Linked DNA regions of Homo sapiens. The protein of the gene in region 1 interacts with the protein of each later gene in a pairwise test. Each region holds a gene or a part of one and is shown in the gene's direction. Other genes may lie near its edges.

What was found. Proteins that work in one complex are often made in the same cells at the same time.
Region 2: the proteins of TAP1 (region 1) and SLC10A6 interact in binary tests that used the Homo sapiens proteins (3 or more experiments, as listed by UniProt).
Region 3: the proteins of TAP1 (region 1) and ERGIC3 interact in binary tests that used the Homo sapiens proteins (3 or more experiments, as listed by UniProt).

Annotation. Positions count from the first base shown.
Region 1 is NC_000006.12:32,850,684-32,858,466, reverse strand, and holds the start of TAP1 (antigen peptide transporter 1), read left to right. Parts: upstream 1-4,762; 5' UTR 4,763-4,830; coding exon 4,831-5,428; intron 5,429-5,705; exon of another isoform or gene 5,706-5,872; intron 5,873-5,964; coding exon 5,965-6,079; intron 6,080-6,227; coding exon 6,228-6,358; intron 6,359-7,317; coding exon 7,318-7,523; intron 7,524-7,783. Other genes in the region: PSMB9 (proteasome subunit beta type-9 precursor), read right to left, coding at 1-103, 333-462, 1,073-1,204, 2,262-2,329, 4,178-4,237. UniProt on the Homo sapiens protein: ABC transporter associated with antigen processing. In complex with TAP2 mediates unidirectional translocation of peptide antigens from cytosol to endoplasmic reticulum (ER) for loading onto MHC class I (MHCI) molecules.
Region 2 is NC_000004.12:86,839,385-86,846,405, reverse strand, and holds part of SLC10A6 (sodium-dependent organic anion transporter), read left to right. Parts: intron 1-7,021. UniProt on the Homo sapiens protein: Transports sulfoconjugated steroid hormones from the extracellular compartment into the cytosol in a sodium-dependent manner without hydrolysis.
Region 3 is NC_000020.11:35,537,895-35,545,077, forward strand, and holds the start of ERGIC3 (endoplasmic reticulum-Golgi intermediate compartment protein 3), read left to right. Parts: upstream 1-4,183; 5' UTR 4,184-4,203; coding exon 4,204-4,291; intron 4,292-4,428; coding exon 4,429-4,499; intron 4,500-4,618; coding exon 4,619-4,706; intron 4,707-4,927; coding exon 4,928-5,047; intron 5,048-6,488; exon of another isoform or gene 6,489-6,888; intron 6,889-7,183. UniProt on the Homo sapiens protein: Possible role in transport between endoplasmic reticulum and Golgi. Positively regulates trafficking of the secretory proteins SERPINA1/alpha1-antitrypsin and HP/haptoglobin.

The DNA of each region.
Region 1 (7,783 bases):
CTGGCTTATATGCTGCATCCACATAACCATAGATAAAGGTGCTGCCGGAGCCACCAATGGCAAAAGGCTGTCGAGTCAGCATTCCTCCCAGGGTTCCATATACCTGGGAAAGGGATCCTCAGGTTAAAGAATCATCAAGCCCTTCCTTCCCACTGAGACATTAAGTGGTCTCTGCACCCTGCAATGAAGCCCTGGTATCTCATATCCCCAAAGTACTATGCTTTCAGAGGTAGTGTCCTTGGAACTCATTGCTAGAATGACATAGGACTTCCATCTTCCTCTGCAGGAGAGTGGGGAAGCCCAGAGGAGAGAGTGCTTTGGGAGAAACTCACCTGACCTCCTTCACGTTGGTCCCAGCCAGCTACCATGAGATGTGCAGACAAGTCCTCTCGATATTTATAGCTGATATTTCTCACCACATTTGCAGCAGCCAAAACAAGTGGAGGTTCCTCCAGTTCTATCCTGAGGGAAATATTAGGAATAAAGGTTGATAGAATTTTAAGTCTCATTCTCCTATACTGTTACCATCATCCCTGCTAAACGACCCCTGAAAACTGTAACTGCAATAGCTCAAACTGCAGCCTCCCTCCCACATGTACAGGGGAACCAGAGTCCCACACCACCAACTGGTAAGAAGCTTTCAATTGCTCACTCTTTTGCTCAGCCCCACCCACATAACTTTCTTTTGGCTGCAAGGACCCTGCTCTTATGGGGAAAAGCAGATAAGGTTACTTCCGTCCCAACGACCTTGATTTCTCGTATGGTAACTGCCTGATATTATGGTGGGTCACAATATCACCTTCTTCCTGATTATTTATATCAGGATAGTGATTTACAGCTTTTAAACTGTGTTCACATATAGAATGTGGTTCTCAAAATAACCGTCTCATGAGGTACTATATTATCTCCACTTTACAGATGCAGAAACTGACAGATTCAAGTGCCAGCAAGAGCCGAAACAAGACTTTTCCATTTCCCAGTGTCCAGCTCCTGGAACAGCACACTGTACAGGGATTCATGCAGGTTGGGGGAGCTCTAGTGGGTGGGGAGTCAGAACTCCAGAGCTTCATACCCATGGAGCTCCAGCTGGTAGGCGGCCATGTCGGCCACGGCTTGGGCATCAGCAGCTGAACCAGAGAGTGCACAGTAGATGCGCTCGTGCAGCGGGGACAGCTTGTCAAACACTCGGTTCACCACCGCCTCGCTGTCAGGAGGGAGTCAACAGTCACCAAGTTAAAACTCAGGTTTTTTTTTTTTTTTTTTTTTTTGAGACAGTCTCACTCTGTCACCCAGGCTGGAGTGCAGTGGATCAATCTTGGGCTCACTGCAAACTTCGCCTCCCTGGTTCAAGTGATTCTCCTGCCTCAGCCTCCCGAATAGCTGGGATTACAGGCACCCACCACCAAGCCCAGCTAATGTTTGTATTTTCAGTAGAGACAAGGTCCCAACATGTTGGCCAGGCTGGTCTCAAACTCCTGACCTCAAATATCTGCCCACCTCGGCATCCCAAAGTGCTGAGATTATAGATGTGAGCCACTGCACCCAACCAGAACTCAGGAATTTTTGAGGGTGATCATTCAATGTCTCTCAAATTTCTTTGACAAGAGAATAGCATGAAGTTTAATGCTTGGATTAAAGCAGGAGGCAAATAATCATCTCAGATATTATTAATCACTGCAGATGTTAATCAAAATTAGGCTTATTTTTCAGGCTTAGATTTTATAACAAAGCAAAAAATGCTAAGGTAAGAAAAATATGCCTCATCAATTTTCTTTGCTATTAACAATCTTGAGAGAGTTATGTTCTATGGAACATAATGTCAGTAATATTGACCTAACCCCATATACTCATTTTGCATGTGAGGAAATTGGTTAGGAGTGGGAGAAGAGACAAAATAGTTCAATATATGGTAAATGAGAAACCAGGTATCTGCTTGACAGAATCATCTTTTTGATCCCTAAGCACAGATGGAAAGAAGACCCTCAAAAATCTATCTCCTGTCCCCCTCTCAGACCCTATTCCTTTACTCATCCCTGTACACTACTGGGACAGGTCACATACACATTCAGACCCCAGATCCTCCTCCACAAATTCAGAGACCCAAGCACCCACCAAATAGCTTATCATAGTGGCTTTTGGGGAAGGTCAACTCCATTCCTCCAAGGCTCCAGTTTGCCAGTCTTTTCATGAATGGGTAAGGAAAGTGTGTATTTGAGGCCATTAGCTTCTTTCCAAATGCATACATCTTCACTTTTACTCACCCTGCAGACACTCGGGAATCAGAACCCATCACAACGCCCCCGTCAAACTCCACTGCCATGATGGTGGTCTGCAGAGACACAGAATATGGAATGTCAGGGCAAGAACAGCCTTGATGCCCTCATGTTAGAGAAGAAGAAACATTCCCAGAGAGGCGAAGTGACTGGCTCAAAGATTACACAGTAACAGGCCAGAGCTGACTGTCAGTACAGGCTTTTTTTCCCTTCATCTTTCCACTTTCTCTATTGCTTCATCCGGCTGCAGGGGAATGCCACAGCCCAGCTGTGATACAACACAGAAAGAACTGTGTCCCTAAGTTCCAACTTGCCTAGTGGAATCCTCTCCACTGTAGAGAGGTGGAGATGAGGCTCCTACAGGTAGAAGTGAAGCAGCTCCGCAAGTGAAAATTATCTCCAACGGAAGGGCTCATAGTATGTGCAGATGTGGTGTAGACCCAACACAGAGTAATTGACTATGATCTTGGGAAACAAGGTCAGTCTATTTTTTTTTTTTTGGTCCACAATCCTCCACTCTCACCCCCCATTTCATCAGAAGTGAGCTCTTCCAATTTACTGAACATTGGAAAAAATCGAGGAGGGCAGTGGTTAGCATGGCCAGGGGCAAGGCAGGAGAGAAGCAGCAAGGAACACATACAGATGGTTGAAAATAAAAGTTTCAGTTATGGAATTTCCGATCAAGAGGTAAATACATATCTCAGCAGCCAGGGAGGTAAATTTGTACCAAGAGATAATTTGACTGAGAAGTTTAAGCTGACTTTTCCAGGTCAAGAAAAGAATCAAGAAGAAGTGAGGGAAGATAAAGCTACATTTATTCTACTATTGAGTTGGAAGGAGCCTTAAAGATCCTCGGTTCAAATGAGGAAACCAAGTCACAGAAAATGCAAACGACTTATGCAAAGTCACACAGAGTTAATAGTAGACCTGGGACTAAAATTCAGGTCTAACTCTTATCCCTTGTTTCCACTTCTACTTCCTACTTGCCACTGCTCATTTGGCAGTGAGGGGAGATTTCCCAAATTATAAGTGGTTTCACTGTGTCTTTCTTACCAGGCCGTAAGTTACTCTGGCCCCAAAGGACGCTCCTCTGAGTATGCTTTCCGACGGACCGACTTATCATGAATAGAGGGTCAAAGAACAGGGTTAACTTCAAGTTAGAGGCTATTCCTCTCTAACAAAGCCGCCCCCAAGCCACGAGTGGTGGCAGTAGTCCAGAGCAGAAGCCAGCCAGCCAGTCTTGGGGCTGCCATCTGCCCCAGGCGCCCATCCTAAGCAAAGTCCCCCCAGTGGGCACATGGGAGTGGGCAGGGAAGACACAGGGAAGGGAGTAAGGCAGCATCTGGGCCAAGGAGAGGCCTTCCTGGGTCAAGCTAGGGAAGGGCATCACTAGTTAACACAGAACGCCCATTATCAGTGCTTGGGCTAAGAGTTGCCCAGTGGCAAGTTTATCAAAAGTCTGTGTGATGAGTTGGTCCTTCTCAATAAGTGCCTATATTTCCTTCTCCCAAGTGCTGTTCTACTTCACCCAGGGCACCATTTCCTCATCTCTTTGCACCATCCCCAACCCCCTTTCTTGATTTAACCAGCCCCCACTGTCCGGGACCAGAGTGAAAGCGAAAGCGCTTTAGAGTAGCTTCCCGTTGACGCTTCCAGCTAAGAGTCAAAGCACCCGCTTTTTCCACCAGCCTCGCGTGCCTGTTCCCTTCACGGACACTCTAGACGACCCCCCTCAGAAAAGAAATACTCTATGCTCATTGCGGGTTGCAAGCGCTGGCTGCTACAGGCGACCTCCCTGCGCTCCCGTTGGTCTCTGCATTCACTTCTCCGCGCGCGCTTCCAGGGTCCCCTGGCCGCTGCATCTCCTCCACCCCTCTGCCAACCCTCAAGCCCAGACCCATTACCCCGGTGTGGACTTCTCCCGCCCGGGGTAAGTCCCCGGTTGGTGCTCCCGCCCGCAGCATCCCTGCAAGGCACCGCTCTCCTCGCCGCCTGGGGCACTGGTTTCCAACCTGGGACAGCGCACAACGCGCAGCCGACAGCCCCGCCCCTTCGCGGCGCCGCCAGGAGGCGCCTGGGTGCTGCGGGGCTGCTTTGCGCGCGGCGCTAACGTGTGTAGGGCAGATCTGCCCCGAGACAAGTGACGAGGCAGCCCCGCCCTGAGGCTGGGGTGGGAAAACTGGTGCAAGTGGAAAGGCAGGAGGCAGGGAGAGGCGAGAAGGGTGTGCGTGATGGAGAAAATTGGGCACCAGGGCTGCTCCCGAGATTCTCAGATCTGATTTCCACGCTTGCTACCAAAATAGTCTGGGCAGGCCACTTTTGGAAGTAGGCGTTATCTAGTGAGCAGGCGGCCGCTTTCGATTTCGCTTTCCCCTAAATGGCTGAGCTTCTCGCCAGCGCAGGATCAGCCTGTTCCTGGGACTTTCCGAGAGCCCCGCCCTCGTTCCCTCCCCCAGCCGCCAGTAGGGGAGGACTCGGCGGTACCCGGAGCTTCAGGCCCCACCGGGGCGCGGAGAGTCCCAGGCCCGGCCGGGACCGGGACGGCGTCCGAGTGCCAATGGCTAGCTCTAGGTGTCCCGCTCCCCGCGGGTGCCGCTGCCTCCCCGGAGCTTCTCTCGCATGGCTGGGGACAGTACTGCTACTTCTCGCCGACTGGGTGCTGCTCCGGACCGCGCTGCCCCGCATATTCTCCCTGCTGGTGCCCACCGCGCTGCCACTGCTCCGGGTCTGGGCGGTGGGCCTGAGCCGCTGGGCCGTGCTCTGGCTGGGGGCCTGCGGGGTCCTCAGGGCAACGGTTGGCTCCAAGAGCGAAAACGCAGGTGCCCAGGGCTGGCTGGCTGCTTTGAAGCCATTAGCTGCGGCACTGGGCTTGGCCCTGCCGGGACTTGCCTTGTTCCGAGAGCTGATCTCATGGGGAGCCCCCGGGTCCGCGGATAGCACCAGGCTACTGCACTGGGGAAGTCACCCTACCGCCTTCGTTGTCAGTTATGCAGCGGCACTGCCCGCAGCAGCCCTGTGGCACAAACTCGGGAGCCTCTGGGTGCCCGGCGGTCAGGGCGGCTCTGGAAACCCTGTGCGTCGGCTTCTAGGCTGCCTGGGCTCGGAGACGCGCCGCCTCTCGCTGTTCCTGGTCCTGGTGGTCCTCTCCTCTCTTGGTAAGGGGAACGCAGGGCAAGAGGGGAGGACACAAGGGGACTGGGACAGGAATCAAAGGTAATTGTCAGTAAGGTAGAGTAGCGTGGGTTCTGGGAAATGTGGAGCAGGAGAAGGACTCCTAGCGTGGGTCTTGGAACACCACTTCGGTGTAGAAGAAACGGCACTGGACTGGCGGGGGCCAGAGGTTCTGGGCTCCATTGCTGACCGGGTCTTGATTCTTTGGGCCACGCCGGAAGCGGGGAAATCCTTTGCTCTGGGGCCGAAGGGCGGGGCATCCTCATCTCTAACAGGAGGCTTTTCTACTTCATGATCTCCAGCCTTCCTAATAAAATCCTGAAAGTTCTGGTAGAGCAACCACAGGGTAGTGAGTTCCAGGGCAGCCTATTTAGGTTCGGGATTGAGACGTCAGTGTTTCCTTTCTGCTGATGCCCTCCAGGATAATGGTGAGGGGGAGGAGGCGTGGTGGGGCCAGTCTGACTGGAACTGACCTACTTAGACTTAATATTTGTGCGTGACCTCTCTTCTCTTTCTCCAGGGGAGATGGCCATTCCATTCTTTACGGGCCGCCTCACTGACTGGATTCTACAAGATGGCTCAGCCGATACCTTCACTCGAAACTTAACTCTCATGTCCATTCTCACCATAGCCAGGTCTGGGGGCTGAAAATGGGGCACCCTGCAAATGAGGGAGTTGGAAGTTGGGGCTGCTGTCCGAAATGCACTTATATGGGGATACCTGGGACCTTCAGTCTGTTCCCTGAACACACCCTGATCCCCTTTTTTTCCGGGTTCTTTATAGTGCAGTGCTGGAGTTCGTGGGTGACGGGATCTATAACAACACCATGGGCCACGTGCACAGCCACTTGCAGGGAGAGGTGTTTGGGGCTGTCCTGCGCCAGGAGACGGAGTTTTTCCAACAGAACCAGACAGGTTTCTCCTGAAACTCTTTCATTATACGCCATGTACTGTTCATATCCTCATACATCTGCTTTGATCTCCCCCCTCCCCGCTCTCTCTCTCTCACACACACATACACACATTGTTCCTTCTCATTCTTGATATACCCTCTCCCTGTCTCTCTCTCTCTGTCTCTGTCTCTCTCTCTCTCTCTCTCACACACACACACACACAATTGTTTTTCTCATTCTTGATATACCTCAGGAGCAAAATATTGTCCTCCTTACCTTAAGAAAAACCTAGAGTTTTCATCTAGCATTTTCTTATAAATCTATTCCTATGTATCCTTAGATAGAAACCATAGAATTTCAAACCTGGAAATTTTGAGCTCATAGAGACCAACTGCCTCATCTGACAGAGAAGGAAACTGAGGCCAAGACCCTAAATGCTGAAACTGCACAGTTACATATGGCTAGAGACACACTTGGGGTTAGAACCCTGGTCTCTTGAGTGCTCCACAGACTTCGGCATGCTTTCTAGCAGCACTAGAAGCTGTACAGTTACATATGGCTAGAGATAGACCTGGGGTTAGAACCCTAGTCCCAGTGAGTGCTCCACAGACTTTGGCATGCTTCCTAGCAGCACCCTCCTCCTCCATCTCTGTTATGTGACCAGTTTAAGCTCTTCCTGCCTGTGTGTATAGCATGGGACATACAGGTTCTCTAGGGAACAGAAAGCTTTCAGGAAAATGGAAATTCACATGTGCATTAATGACTTTATAATTAAAATGAAGGTCAGGCCTTTCCTCTTTAACACTCATCTTCCCTGCACTGAGATTTGCAGACCTCTGGAGAACCCTAACCTTGTTTCCTGCAGCCTCCTTAGAACCCCATGTTGACACCCCTGACCCTGGCATCCTGGCTCATTGTTAGTTCGTCTCATCACTTGGAACCTGTCTGATTCACCTCACTCTCTTCTCCCCAACCCTGCAGGTAACATCATGTCTCGGGTAACAGAGGACACGTCCACCCTGAGTGATTCTCTGAGTGAGAATCTGAGCTTATTTCTGTGGTACCTGGTGCGAGGCCTATGTCTCTTGGGGATCATGCTCTGGGGATCAGTGTCCCTCACCATGGTCACCCTGATCACCCTGCCTCTGCTTTTCCTTCTGCCCAAGAAGGTGGGAAAATGGTACCAGGTATGTTCATGGAGTTGGCCCGCTCTACACAGACCCTCATCTCCCAGACTTGGCAGACTCAGTTCCTCTCACATTGCTTTCAGTCCAGCTTTCCTGGCACCCTTACTGATTCTCCATCTTCATGGAACACCCTGTCCCTGTGGTCCATGTTCCCAGGTTGCTCAACATTAACCTCCATACTCTCTGGGTCTTCTTTTCTAGCTTCTCCCCACAATCTGTCTTTAAGAATTTGATCCCCAACCCGTTCTGAGTCATTTTCC
Region 2 (7,021 bases), on another chromosome or scaffold:
ATTTGTGTGTGTGTGTGTATTCAGAGTGCCAGGTACATAGTAGTTGTGCAATAAATATTAGCTACTTTTCCTCTTTTCTTTCTAAATTTTGATTTTGAGTCTTACCAACAAAACTAAAAAAACAAGCAAAAACTAAATATTAGATTTTTAGAAGCTTATAGGTACAAAAGTAATAAAATCAATTTTCAGTAGAAACTCAAATAGGTGAAAATCAAGTACGGTGTGAAACAATATCTAAGTAATTACATTTCTTCATAATTGAATACCAACAAAAAATCAGTTTTAAGCAAAACTCAGTGGATCGTCATTGATAGGAGTTTTATCTGCTGTTAATGCTGGATAAAATCCAAGAGCGGTTAGCACAACATCTTCATTTGACACACGAGGAAGTGGAGATTTAGCTCCCTGCAGATGACCTTGAGCACGTTTCTCATGCCTTCACTCCTGCTTCATGCAGTGCACTTGCAGTTCTCCATGTGTTCACCCCACACAGGCATTTCAGAATCCATTGGTTGGAACCGGTTTGTGCGTTCTGCAAATGAGATGACTGATGACACCCATCCTCTTGCAGTTGCCTGGGCTTGTCATCTTAGCCTTGCCCTGTGACTACCCTCATTCTCGCCATGGCCACTCAATCCACTGCCAAGCCCTGTAGCCCTTCCTCTTGCTGTGTTGCTCACAGTTCTTGCTTCCTGTTGGTCTCCACTAACACTTCCTCAGGTCAGGCCCTCACAATTTCTTTCTTGGCTAATTGTATTTTCACAACAATGAAAGTGCTGTTCTCTGCACCTTTAGTCTCTCCATTACGGCTTTGCAGTAAGTGGATAAGGCAGGCTCTGATACCAGATTGCCTATATTCAAATCCTGACCTTGGGCCTCTTCTCTGTAACTGGAAATCATAACATTACCCGCATGGTACTGTTAGGAGAAAACGAACATGTTATACATACAAAGGCTTCTCAACACCTACTAAATTGGTAGAAACGACTAAGCCAGTCTACTTTACTTCTCCAGGTTCTTTTATTCCACTAGTCCCCTTAAGAACAATGGTTTTTAGTCAAAATGGGCTGCTCATAGTTCTCTGAGCATATCTCACACTCTTCCAGCTTTCTTTTGCCCATGTTGTTCCCACAGTCTGCAGTGCCAACTGACCTTATTTTGTCTCCTCCAGTCATGATGTTGTTCTTCCTTATAACCATCCTAGAAAGCAGTTGGCTGATATGTATGAAGAGCCTTAAAAATTATCCTGCCTCTGGGCCGAGTTTGGCTGATCATGGCTGGGTTCTTTTACATATTTTGGGGTTGGTTAAATGTAGACTGGTCTTGGGTGGTGATATGGTTTGGCTCTGTGTCCCCACCCAATTCTCATCTCGAATTGTAATTCCCGTGTGTCTAGGGAGGGGCCTGGAATCCCCAAGTGTCAAGGGAGGGAAGTGATCAGGTCATGGGGTTGATTTCCCCCATGCTGTTCTAATGATAGTGAGTGATGGTTTTATAAGTGTTTGGAAGTTCCTCCTTTGTTCTTCTTCTCTCTCTTGCTGCCTTGTGAAGAAGGTCCTTGCTTCCCCTTCACCTTCTGCCATGTTTGTAAGTTTCCTGAGACCTCCCCAACCATGTGGAACTGTGAGTCAATCAAATCCCTTTCCTTTATAAATTACGCAGGCTTGGGTATTTCTTTACAGCAGTGTGAAAATGGACTAATGCAGGTGGCTTCAACCTGGACAACTGGGCTCTCTTACTACATGATCTCTCATTTTCTAGTAGACTAGCCTAGACCTGATTACATGGCAGCAGCAGGGTTCTCAGAAAGGCAAAGCAGAAAAGGTCTTTTGAAGTGTTGGCTTTAAACCAGATCCTCTTCCTTCCACCACATTCCATTGGCCAATGCAGACTGCAAGGCCAGTCCAGCTTCATGGATTAGGAAAGTCGATTTTGCCTCTTGATGGGCTGAACTTCCAAGTCACATTACAGCGGACATGGATAAGGGAGGGGTGAAGAATAGGGGGCATTTTTTTCCCCAATATATCCTACTAGAGATGGACAGAATTCCTACCTTTGAGGGTAGAACATGAAAATTAAGATCTGGCAGTACGGTGTAGTAGTTAAGGGCTCTGGAAACAGCAAGCAGACCCATCACTTACTGACTGGATCATCTCGGCAGATTATGCACATTTTCTATGCTTCAGTTTCCTTACTTCTATTTTTTAATTTTTATTTTGATTTTTTTTGAGACGGAGTCTCGCTCTGTCACCCAGGCTGGAGTGCAGTGGCGTGATCTCGGCTCACTGCAAGCTCTGCCTCCCAGGTTCACACCATTCTCCTGCCTCAGCCTCCCGAGTAGCTGGGACTACAGGCGCCTGCCACCACACCTGGCTGATTTTTTGTATTTTTAGTAGAGATGGGGTTTCGCCATGTTAGCCAGGATGGTCTTGATCTCCTGACCTCATGATCCGCCCACCTCAGCCTCCCAAAGTGCTGGGATTACCGGTGTGAGCCACCGAGCCCGGCCAGTTTCCTCACTTCTAAAATGAGAAGCATTCCTACATCGTGAGCTGTTGAGAGGATTGAATGAGTTAATATTTCTAAAGTGCTTAGAATCTCACTTGGCATAAAATGTGATATGAACTATTATTATTATTATATAAGGCAGGCAAAAGAACATCGTGTCCTGGGTCTGTGTTTTAGTCCCTGCTCAAGGAGCTGCATGCCTAACCCTAACCCTGTATATAATGATATATCATAATATATATGTGTCATGTTTTATCTATTCATCCATCAACGGACAATTGAATTATTTCCACTTTTTGGCAATTGTGAATAATACTGTTGAGTCTCAGCTTTCATTTCCCTTGAGTGTATGCTTAGGAGTGGATCTGAGGTTAAATATTAAGTATTTTGTGACTATAGGAAAAGCAAAGCAAAATATGAAGTCCAAATGTCCCCCTTCCTCTACCGTAGTTTCTCCTGAAACTACTGCCCAGAAATGTTTCTCTTGTCTGTCCCCATAATCCGAATTATGTAACTCTTCCTTATCATCTGTTGGAAAGCATTGCAATAGCTGGGCTACTTGTCTGCCTCACCTACTATATCTGTAAGCTCCTGGAAGGCTTGCTCATCTTTGCTTGCACAGTACCAGCCAGGTAGTGGTAGGCACTCGGTAAACATGAGTGAATGAGTGAATGACAGTTTCCGATTGCCTGTGTGTATTACAAAAACAACCCTCAAAAGAGGTCCAGGCCAGGCGTGGTGGCTCACACCTGTAATCCCAGCACTTTGGGAGGCTGAGATGGGCAGATCACTTGAGGTCAGGAGTTCGAGACCAGCCTGGCCAACATGGCAAAACCCCATCTCTACTAAAAATACAAAATTAGCCAGGTGTGGTGATGCATGCCTGTAATGCCAGCTACTCAGGAGACTGAGGCAGGAGAAATGCTTGGACCCAGGAGGCAGAGGTTGCTGTGAGCCGAGATCACACCACTGCACTCCAGCCTGGGCAAGTGACAGAGCGAGACTCCATCTCAAAAAAAAAAAGAAAGAAAGAAAGAAAGAAAGAAAGAAAGAAAGAAAGAAAGAAAGAAAGAAAGAAAGAAAGAAAGAAAGAAAGAAAGAAAGAAAGAAAAGAGGTGTCCATTTATTGATGCAACTCAGGACAGCTCCCACTGTCTTGTCTTTTCTTTTCTTTTCTTTTCTTTTCTTTTTTTTTTTTTTGAGACAGGGTCTTAGACTCTGTCATCAGACTGGAGTGCAGTGGTACAATCATGGCTCACTGAAGTCTTGGCCTTCTGGGGTCAAGTGATCCTCTCACCTCAGCCTTCTGAGCAGCGCAGCTGGGACTATAGGCATGCGCCATCATACCCAGCTAATTTTTTATTTTTTATTACAGAGATGAGGTCTCACTATGTTGCCCAGGCTGGTCTTGAACTCCTGGGCTCAAGCAATCCTCCCACCTAGGGTTTCCAAAGTGCTGGGATTACAGGTGTGGGCCACTTACGCCTGGCCTCCCACTATCTTTGTTTGAGAACTTTTGATATATACAAGAGGTCCATTCTTCCGTAAGGATGTATTTATGTCCTCAGCTGCAGACAAAGGATTCTGACCACTGGTGGTGTTGGAGCCTGTGGAGCTCAGTGGCCAACTTTGACCTTTGAACTTTAAAGAAGTTCTTAGTCCTTCAGTAGAGAACCTGGAAATAGAACTTCAAATTGTTCAGGTCTATCTGACATGTCTTGGTGGAAAACTGAAGGTCCTTTGCATTTAAGGCTTTGGAGACAGAACGGAGACTGAATTCATGAGACTTCATGCAAGCTTCCATGTCTCTATGTACTTTAATTTCCTTATCTATACAATGAAAATAATACTCACACATAGAGTTATTATGTAGATGAAAAGAGAAAATGTATATAAAAGCATGAGACATAACACCTAGCACATAGTGCTCAATAAATACTCATTATTATTGGAAGGCAGCAGACAAGGGTAACATTTATATTGAGGGATGGAAAATCGGGCCTTACGCTCTATTCTAGGGTCAAATCTGTTGGTATGATCTTATAGCTCACTCCGTGTCCATCTGGTTAGCTGGATAATTTTTTATTTCTTTCAGTCGGAAAGCAAGTGTATACTTTCATAGTTTTGAGGGTCAGAGTTCCTGATTTTATGGGATTTTTGAAATTAAAACAATTTATAATAACTTAATCTCCAATTGCAAAATGTTATTGACACTGCATTTTAATGTAATGTGTATATATGTAATTTCCCTGCTTTAAGGGAGGGTTCAAGACTGACCTGTTTGTCTAGACTTGCTGAATATGTCTCATTATTTTCTGTAATAGTTTGGAGATGATGATGCTATTCTTCTCAATGCAAGTGGAATCTTGTTATACTGAAGTTAGATTTTGCCAAAAATTTTCCTATACATGAAAAGTCAAGAGACTTACTTAGCCACATCCTCTGTTTATGCTACATTGGAATTTCATGGCTAAAAATACAAGGCGTGACTTTCCACTGTACTCACAGGCATTCACTGTGTGCTTTTCCACCTTTGCTGGTATTTGTAACAGTTGGCAGAGCACCAGGATAACCTCTTGCCATCCTTGACCAATATCATGATCACCATGGGCTTGAAAATTGTATAAACATGGAAGCAATCACATAGGTAATCAAGGATATAGAATCAGTCGGATATAAATCTCACTTTGCTTCCCATAATCATGAGTCTTACCTTTCTGCTGTTTGAGCCAAAGCCATTCAGTAGAGAAATGTTGTGCTGGTTCTCCAGAAGTTCAAGAGTAAAGTGATATAATATGGAATTCCATTCAGGACTTAGTAATATGGAGAGTCAAGGAATGTAGCACTATCATAGACTAAGAATTTGGAAAAAACTTTCTAAACAGCCTCTTTGTGGATACAGAGGTTTGAGAGCTGTGGCAAACTGCTTTTTTTCTTTTAAATTGCCTACTAGTCAGGAAGAAATCTTTGCTTAAAGTAAGCATTCTTAATAGGATAAAATAATTTTGGGTTTCATATGGAATAAAATATAAGCAAGAACTGCTAAGACAAGTTTGAAAAGGGAAATTTATGTGGAGGTATTTGCCCTACCATATATGAGAACACTGTAATTAGTCTAGTATTTGTTCAGGAAAAAAGAAAGTTATTTATCAATGAGCTAGAAGAGAATTTCCAGAAAATATTTTGTGTACACTTGGGCATTTAATAAATGATAAAGGTGACACTTCAGTATAGTGGAAAATGGTTTATTTTAGTAGATTATATTGACACACTTGCATCTCAATATATTAATAGAAAAAATGGATTAGTCTCATACCTGTTACCATGCAAAATATAAATTTTAAGTCAGTTGAAAATATAAGCATAAAAGTAAAAAGTAGAAGACAATATTTGAATGCCCTCGGATCAGGGTAGGTCTTTAAGATAAGAAACTCAGAAGCCATTAAAAAAACAGCTCTGACTATATAAATGTTAATTATGGCAAGTCATAAGCAAAGTCAAAGATATACACCATGCTTGGAAAAAATACTTGTATTATTCATGGTAATATGAGCCCTAATTTTAAAAGAACTCCTACAAGTTGAGAAGAAGTCTGACAAGCAAGATTGTTTAGAGAGGAGGACACAGAAGAAGCCACTTGACATGAAAGAAAGCACAACCTGATAGAATCCAGAGTGTCGGCTGGGTGCAGTGGCTCACGCCTGTAATCCCAACACTTTGGGAGGCCAAGGTGGGTGGATCACCTGAGGTCCGGAGTTCGAGACCAGCTTGGCCAACATGGTAAAACCCATCTCTACTAAAAATTAAAAAAAAAAAAAAAATTAGCCTGGTGTGGTGGCGGGTACCTGTAATCCCACCTATTCCAGAGGCTGGGGCAGAGAGAATTGCTTGAACCTGGGAGGCGGAGCTTGCAGTGAGTCAAGATCAGGCCACTGCACTCCAGACTGGGTGACAGAGTGAGCTCCAGCTAAAAAAAAAAAATAAAAAAAAAAAATAAGAGTGTAACAAGAGTGAGATCAATTTTTCAATGCTGGCATGACAATTAGAAGGGACTGATCACATCCGGAGTAGGCAAGATTGTGAAATGTAGCAATCTTTTTGGAAAGTAGTCTGAAAGTATATATTAAAACAAAAAACACAGACTTTTACATAGCAATTCCACCTTGGGAATTCACAGAAAGAAAAGAATCATTTCAAGTGAAGTATGTATGAGAGTGTTTATTATAACATTATTTATAATGGCAAAAAACTAAAAGCAACTGACCTATGGTTAATGAAGTGATTGAAGAAATTATGGCATATTTAGATTATGGCATATTTCGCAGTTCTTTAAAAGAATAAGTTTAAATGTATTGGTCTGAGAGGATGTCTGTGATAGATGAAGTGGGAAAAAAAGCAAACAAGTTGCAGAGTAAGGTATATTATAAGGTTCCTTTTTTTATTTTTAGAGACAGGGCCTCCTTCTGTCCCCAAAGCTGGAGTGTTGTGGTGTGAGCATAGCTCACTGCAGCCT
Region 3 (7,183 bases), on another chromosome or scaffold:
TGGCCAGGCTGGTCTTGAACTCTTGACCTCAGGTAATCTGGCCTCCTCGGCCTCCCCTAGTGTTGGGATTACAGGCGTGAGCCACCACCCCTGGCCTTTTTTTTAAAGTATTTTTGATACAGGGTCTCACTCTGTCACCCAGGCTGGAATGCAGTGGCATGGTCTCGGGTCACTGCAACCTCTGCCCCCCACCCCTGGGTTCAAGCGATTCTCCCACCTCAGCCTCCCGAATAGCTGGGATTAGAGGCACCCGCCACCACACCCAGCTAAGTTTTTGTATTTTTTGGTAGAGATGGGATTTTGCTATGTTGGCCAGGTTGGTCTGAAACTCCTGACCTCAAGTGATCCACCTGCCTTGGCCTCCCAAAGTGCTGAGATTACAGGCATGGGCCACCGCGCCTGGGCTTAGTGCAATATTTGAGGCACTCAGATTTTTTTTTTCCTGTGCTGCTGGTTTTGGTCCTATGTGGGCAATAAAACAAGGAACCTTTCAGGAAAGTACTTCTCACACTTTAATGTGCATGCTAATTATCTGGAGAGTCTTGTTAGAATGCAGATTCTGATTCTGCAGGTTTGGGGTGGGGACTGGGATTCTGCATTTCTAACAGGTTCCCAGATAAGGCCAATGTTTCTGGTTCAAGGATCCCACTTAGGGTAGCAGAGCTTTAGACTTAATTCCATCAGCAGATTCCTTATTACCTATTTCTGATAGAATTCTTGGTGCTCTCAGGAATCTGAAGCCCAGATAATAGAGGGAGATCCCAGGTGTCCTCTGCCACCCTGTTAGCTGAGGGAGACCCAAAAACTTTGGCTTCCGTGAAAAGTCCTCCTCCAGTTGTCCCCAAAGTTGTAGCATGAGTCCTTCCAAATCTTTTCTCATGATTATACAAATACATATTCCCCCATATAAGATTAAGATTTTTATATATAGATAGATTTTTTTTTTATTTAGGTTTTTTTTTTTGTTTTTTTTTTGAGACGGAGTGTGGCTCTGTCGCCCAGGCTGGAGTGCAGTGGGGCAATCTCGGCTCACTGCAAGCTCCACCTCCCAGGTTCACGCCATTCTCCTGCCTCAGCCTCCCGAGTAGCTGGGACTACAGGCGCCCGCTACTACGCCCGGCTAATTTTTTGTATTTTTAGTAGAGACAGGGTTTCACCATGTTAGCCAGGATGGTCTTGATCTCCTGACCTCGTGATCCGCCCGCCTCGGCCTCCCAAAGTGCTGGGATTACAGGCGTGAGCCACAGCGCCCGGCCTATGTTTTACATATATAACAATTTATATATAACTACATATATAATATATATAACAGTTTATATATATATATAACAGTTTATATATATAATATATATAACAGTTTATATATATATATATAACAGTTTATATATATAATATATATAACAGTTTATATATATAATATATATAACAGTTTATATATATAATATATAAGTTTATATATTATATATAACAGTTTATATATAACAGTTTATATATAATATATATAAGTTTATATATAACAGTTTATATATATAATATATATAAGTTTATATATAATATATATAAGTTTATATATATGTTTATATATAATATATATAACAGTTTATATATATAATATATATAACAGTTTATATATATAATATATATAACAGTTTATATATATAATATATATAACAGTTTATATATATAAAATATATAACAGTTTATATATATAATATATATAAGTTTATATATATAATATATATAACAGTTTATATATATTATATATATATATATGCACACACACAAAGAGAGAGAGAGAGACTCGCTCTGTCGCCCAGGCTGTAGTGCAGTGGTGTAATCACAGCTCACTATGAGGCAGGAGAACAGGGAATCAGGGTAACCGGGGGTTAAGACATAAGCAAATGAAGGGGTGCAGCCAGTTCTAGGCAGCATACAGGCCACATCTTCAATCCTATGATAACGAGACAGAAGTTTCCACTTCCGCCTCCGATTGACCGTGGGGCCAAATCTCCACTTCAGCCTCTGATTGGCTGTGGGCCAAGTCTCCACTTCAGCCTCTGATTTGGTCGCAGGCCAATCCTTCATAGGTGTAGCCAACTGGAGGCTTCTAAAGGGCACCTAGGGGTGTTGCCAGGTCCCTTTAGCTTAATACAAACCCTGATTGAGGAGGCTCTTGAGCAGCTTGCTCTAACCAGCTGCCGCTATGAATCGTCTTCAATAAATCTATGCTTTTGTTATTCCGTTCTTCTGTTGCTGTTTGTCTTTCGTTGCCCTTCTGTTACTTTATGTGTTTTGTTCAACACGCCAAGAACCTGGACAACTCTATGCTGGTAACAACTGCAGGTAACCTGGTAACAACTGCAGTTTCAAACTCTCCTGGGCTCAACCCCAGCCTCCCAGGTAGCTGAGACTATAGACGCATGCCACCACACCTGGCTAATTTTTTTATTTTTATTTTTATTTTTGGAGACAGAATCTCACTCTGTCGCCCAGGCTGGAATGCAATGGCATGATCTCGGCTCACTGCAACCTCCGCCTCCCAGGTTCAAGCGATTCTCCTGCCTCGGACTCACAAGTAGCTGGGTTTACAGGAGCACACTACCACGCCTGGCTAATTTTTGTATTTTTAGTAGAGATGGGGTTTCACCATGTTGACCAGGCTGGTCTCAAACTCCTGAACTCAAGTGATGCTTCCTGGCTCGGCCTCCTGAAGTGCTAGGGTTACAGATGTAGTTTTTAAAGTTTTTGTAGAGTGGGGTCTTGCTGTGTTGCCCAGGCTGGTCTTAGACTCCTGGCCTCATGTGATCCTCCTCGGTCTCCCAAAGTGCTGTGATTACAGGTGTGAGCCATTGTGCCCAGCCCAATTTTTAATTAAAAAATGGAATGATGGAATGCACATTACTTTGCATCTTTTCCCCCTTAAAAATACATTCTTAGTATACCTAAAGGAGTAAATCTACCTCATTCTTTTGAAAAGTGGCCTAATATTCCATAGAATGGGTGTATCGTGATTTATTCAATTTATTTAATGTATCAGTGGGCATTCTGGCTGGTTCCAGATTTTTGCCATTGAACAATCTCATGCATACATCTTTATGATGTGGTGCACTTAAAATCTTTAAGAGACAGATTCAATATCTTAAGGTGTAACAACCACCCAGATCATGGTACTTTTATCCTTATATTAAAATTTTTTTCTGTTAACCTTGGATAGCTGCTTACATATTTTTTCTTTTTCAAAATTTTTCTATTAACCTTGACATGGTGCTTTTACTTCCTAAAGTGGAATTCCTGTATGAAAGCCTATGAGCTTTTATATCTTACTCATTGCAGCTGCATTACTGTGGGAGCTGTCCCTCTAGAGACACTGGGCTGCAATGGGAAGTGTCAGGGAGAGCTTAAGCTCCATATCACTTGAGTCTAAACCTGGAGGGATAGAGCGTGTCCGTGAGGATCCCAGGGCCTGGAGAGCAATTTAGGGTAATATTCAGAAAGCAGCGCTCAGGAGAAGCACTGGGACGCTGTTTAGGTAAAATCAACCCAAAAGACCCTGATTCCCAGAGTACTTTGAGGTCCAGAAGAACTGGGCTGGAAGCAGGTCCTGCTATTAATTGGCTGTGATCTTGGGCAAGTTATTTAACTTCTCCAGGTCACAGTTTGCTCTTTGGAAAACGGAGATAAGTCACACCTGCTTTCAGGGCGGACACCCTTACTTTACATCAGAATCATCCGATGCCATTCCTAGCGTTTCGGCTTCAGTAGGTGGGAATCAATTATTTGCATTTCTAATAGGTAATCAGTTGATAATGATGCGGCCGGTCCGGTACACTCGAAAAACCACTGTTCCAGGATATTCCAAGATGTTCCAAGAGTCTTAAACACCTGGTGCAGTTCCGAGCACAAGGCACACGAACGGTGCTATTAGCGTTTCTAACCCCGCAGAGAACTCCTCGCACCCCAGTCCTCAAAATCCCGCCCCGGACAGCGGAGGCCGGGGCAGTAGCTTCCAGACCCAATTGCCCGCGCAAGGGGGCGTGGCAGCATCGTTGGGCGGGGCCGCCTGTAAGAGAACGCGGCTAAAGGTGGGGCCAAGCGTGCGGTTTGCTGCGCCTGCGTGAGGAAAAAGAGGGGGGCGTGGCTCCAGGCCGGAAGAGGGAGTCTGTAGGGGCGGGCCGGCTGGCGTCCCCTTTCCGGCCGGTCCCCATGGAGGCGCTGGGGAAGCTGAAGCAGTTCGATGCCTACCCCAAGACTTTGGAGGACTTCCGGGTCAAGACCTGCGGGGGCGCCACCGGTAGGCCGCAGCGGGGCCGGGGTCGCGTGGAGGGGGGCGTCCTAGAGCTTAGCCCGGGCTCCTGGACTCTGACTGGCCTGCCGGTGTCTGAGGGAGCGGATTCGAGGCCATTCTGACCCTCGCCCCTTGTCCTGCAGTGACCATTGTCAGTGGCCTTCTCATGCTGCTACTGTTCCTGTCCGAGCTGCAGTATTACCTCACCACGGAGGTAAGGGGCGGGGCTTAGTGCGTGGGCGGGGCTTGGCATTCTAGGAGTAGGACCTTTAGGGGTGGGAGTGGGGAAGGAGAGGTTTGGGGCTAAGTCTTACTGAGGTAGCGCTGCCCCAGGTGCATCCTGAGCTCTACGTGGACAAGTCGCGGGGAGATAAACTGAAGATCAACATCGATGTACTTTTTCCGCACATGCCTTGTGCCTGTGAGTACCTCACCATGGGTGGGACTGGAGAGACCCAGGGTTCTCATGTGGGCTGCCAGATTCACACCTCCACCCTTAGGTTCTGGACTGGACCCCAGGACAACCTCCTTCTCCTCATCCCGTTCTGCCCCAAGACAGGCCCAGTATCCCCTTCCCCTCCAAAACCCACATCCCCTTGTCCCTAGGGTCCCAGTACCTTAGCCTGATTTTCCTGCTTCCAGATCTGAGTATTGATGCCATGGATGTGGCCGGAGAACAGCAGCTGGATGTGGAACACAACCTGTTCAAGCAACGACTAGATAAAGATGGCATCCCCGTGAGCTCAGAGGCTGAGCGGCATGGTAACCAGGGGAGGGGGCCGGGTCTCAGATCCCAAAGCTGGATGTACCCAAGCCTATCTGCTAGCAAGTGAACTGTGGCAGGCATAGTGATACATTAAACAACTAAGAGCTAGAGAAGTCAAGTGACTTGCCTAGGGTCCCCCAGCTAGTAAGAGTCAGAGTGAGCTAAAATCCTCTATACATATCGAGTCAGGTAATCTACCTGGCTATTATTCTCAGAGGTCCTCAATACCTGCAGATGGTAGTTTGAATACCAGAGGTTTGAAGATAGGTCTTATGTGCTCTTGCCTTGGTAGAACTGTCTAGATGGACCCAGGCTTCTTTGAGTGTTTGCTTTCCCAGCCCATTGGCTTAATTCAGCCCTTAATGCTCTTCCCCTTTGGAATGCAGGTGGTTTAATGAGAATTTAGGTTCTCAAGTCAGATTGCCTGGGTTCACATCTAGCTTTGTCTCCTGCAGTCTGTGAGCTTCAGCTAGAAAGTGGTAATAAAACAGTAGTACCAACCACATGGAATTGTAAGATCAAATGAAGTCATATGTGTAAAATGCCTGGTACAGAGTGGGTACCCACTTTTACCTTCCTTTCCTTTATCTTGGTGGCTTCCCAATTCCCTTCGTTAACTCAGTTTCCCACCACAGCAAACTGTCCTCAAAGCTGGGATTTCTAACACCTTAGAGATTACTCTGGTGGGGAGTTTTATCATTCGTTGTTTCAGCAGATTAATGCAGGACACCAGTGGAACCAACATAATTTGCTATAGGACTGGATGTGGAGTGGAGGAGAGCAAAGTCATGGTTGTTGATTCCAACGCTTTCAGCCTGAGCAAATGAATGACTTGAGATGGAGATGACTGGAGGAGAAGGTTTTTTTGGTGGGAGGGAGGAGTGGCTATTGGATATCCACTGCTGTGTAACAAAGTACTCCAAAAGTTAGTAGTTTGATACAATAAAAATGTGTTTTTTCAGTTTCCCTGGGTCAGGAATTTAGGAGTGGCTTGTTTGGGTGATTCGGGATTAGGGTATCTCACGAGGTTGCAGTCATCTAAGGATTGATGGGGCACTGAAGAATCTACTATCTATCTATCTATCTATCTATCTATCTATCTATCTATCTATCTATCTGTCTATCTTGAGACAGAGTCTCACTTTGTCGCCCAGGCTGGAGTGCAGTGGCGCGATCTTGGCTCACTGCAACCTCCGCCTCCCAGGTTCAAGTGATTCTCCTGCCTCAACCTCCCGAGTAGCTGGGATTACAGGCCTGTGCCACCATGCCCAGCTAATTTTTTGTATTTTTAGTAGAGACGGGGTTGCACCTTGTTGGGCCAGATGGTCTTGATCTCTTGACCTTGTGATCCACCCGCCTCAGCCTTCCAAAGTGCTGGGATTACAGGCATGAGCCACTGCGCCTGGCCTACTTATTTGTTGTTTAAATTTATTTTTTTTCTGTCAAGGTGTTCTTTATTTCAGAGAGAGGGCAGGACAGGGGGCTCAGTCTTTCTTGGCATCAGCTTTCCTCATGATGGCTGGGACATTGCTCAGCTCCTCCTGCCTCCTCTTAGTGCGGATGTGCGTCCCCACTCTTTTCTTGATGAACTTGAGGGCCCGTTTGTCCTTGGAGACCTTGAGTAACACCATGGCGTGCCGCTCATACGGGGCGAAACCACACACCTCTCGGATCATGTCCCACATGAATTTGGTGTTTGGTCAGGCGCCCGCGGCGGCAGCTGTGCCTGGGCTTGCTCATGTTCTTGGTCATCTTGTGGCCCTTGTCAAGGCACACGGCCATAGTGGGTAGCACAGAGCCATGGCTGCTGCTCTCCAATGGCAGCTGTGGCAGAAGGGCTGGTGCCACGCGGGGATCTACTTTTTTTTTTTTTTTTTTTTTGAGTCACGCTCTGTCACCCAGGCTGGAGTGCAATGGTGCGATTTCAGCTCACTGCAACCTCTGCCTCCCGGCTTCAAGTGATTCACCTGCCTCAGCCTTCTGAGTAGCTGGGGTTACAGGCGCCTGCCCCCACACCCGGCTACTTTTTGTATTTTTGGTAGAGACAGGGTTTCACCATCGTGGCCAGGCTGGTCTCAAACTCCTGACCTCAGGTGATCCACCCGCCTTGGCCTCCCAAAGTGTTGGGATTA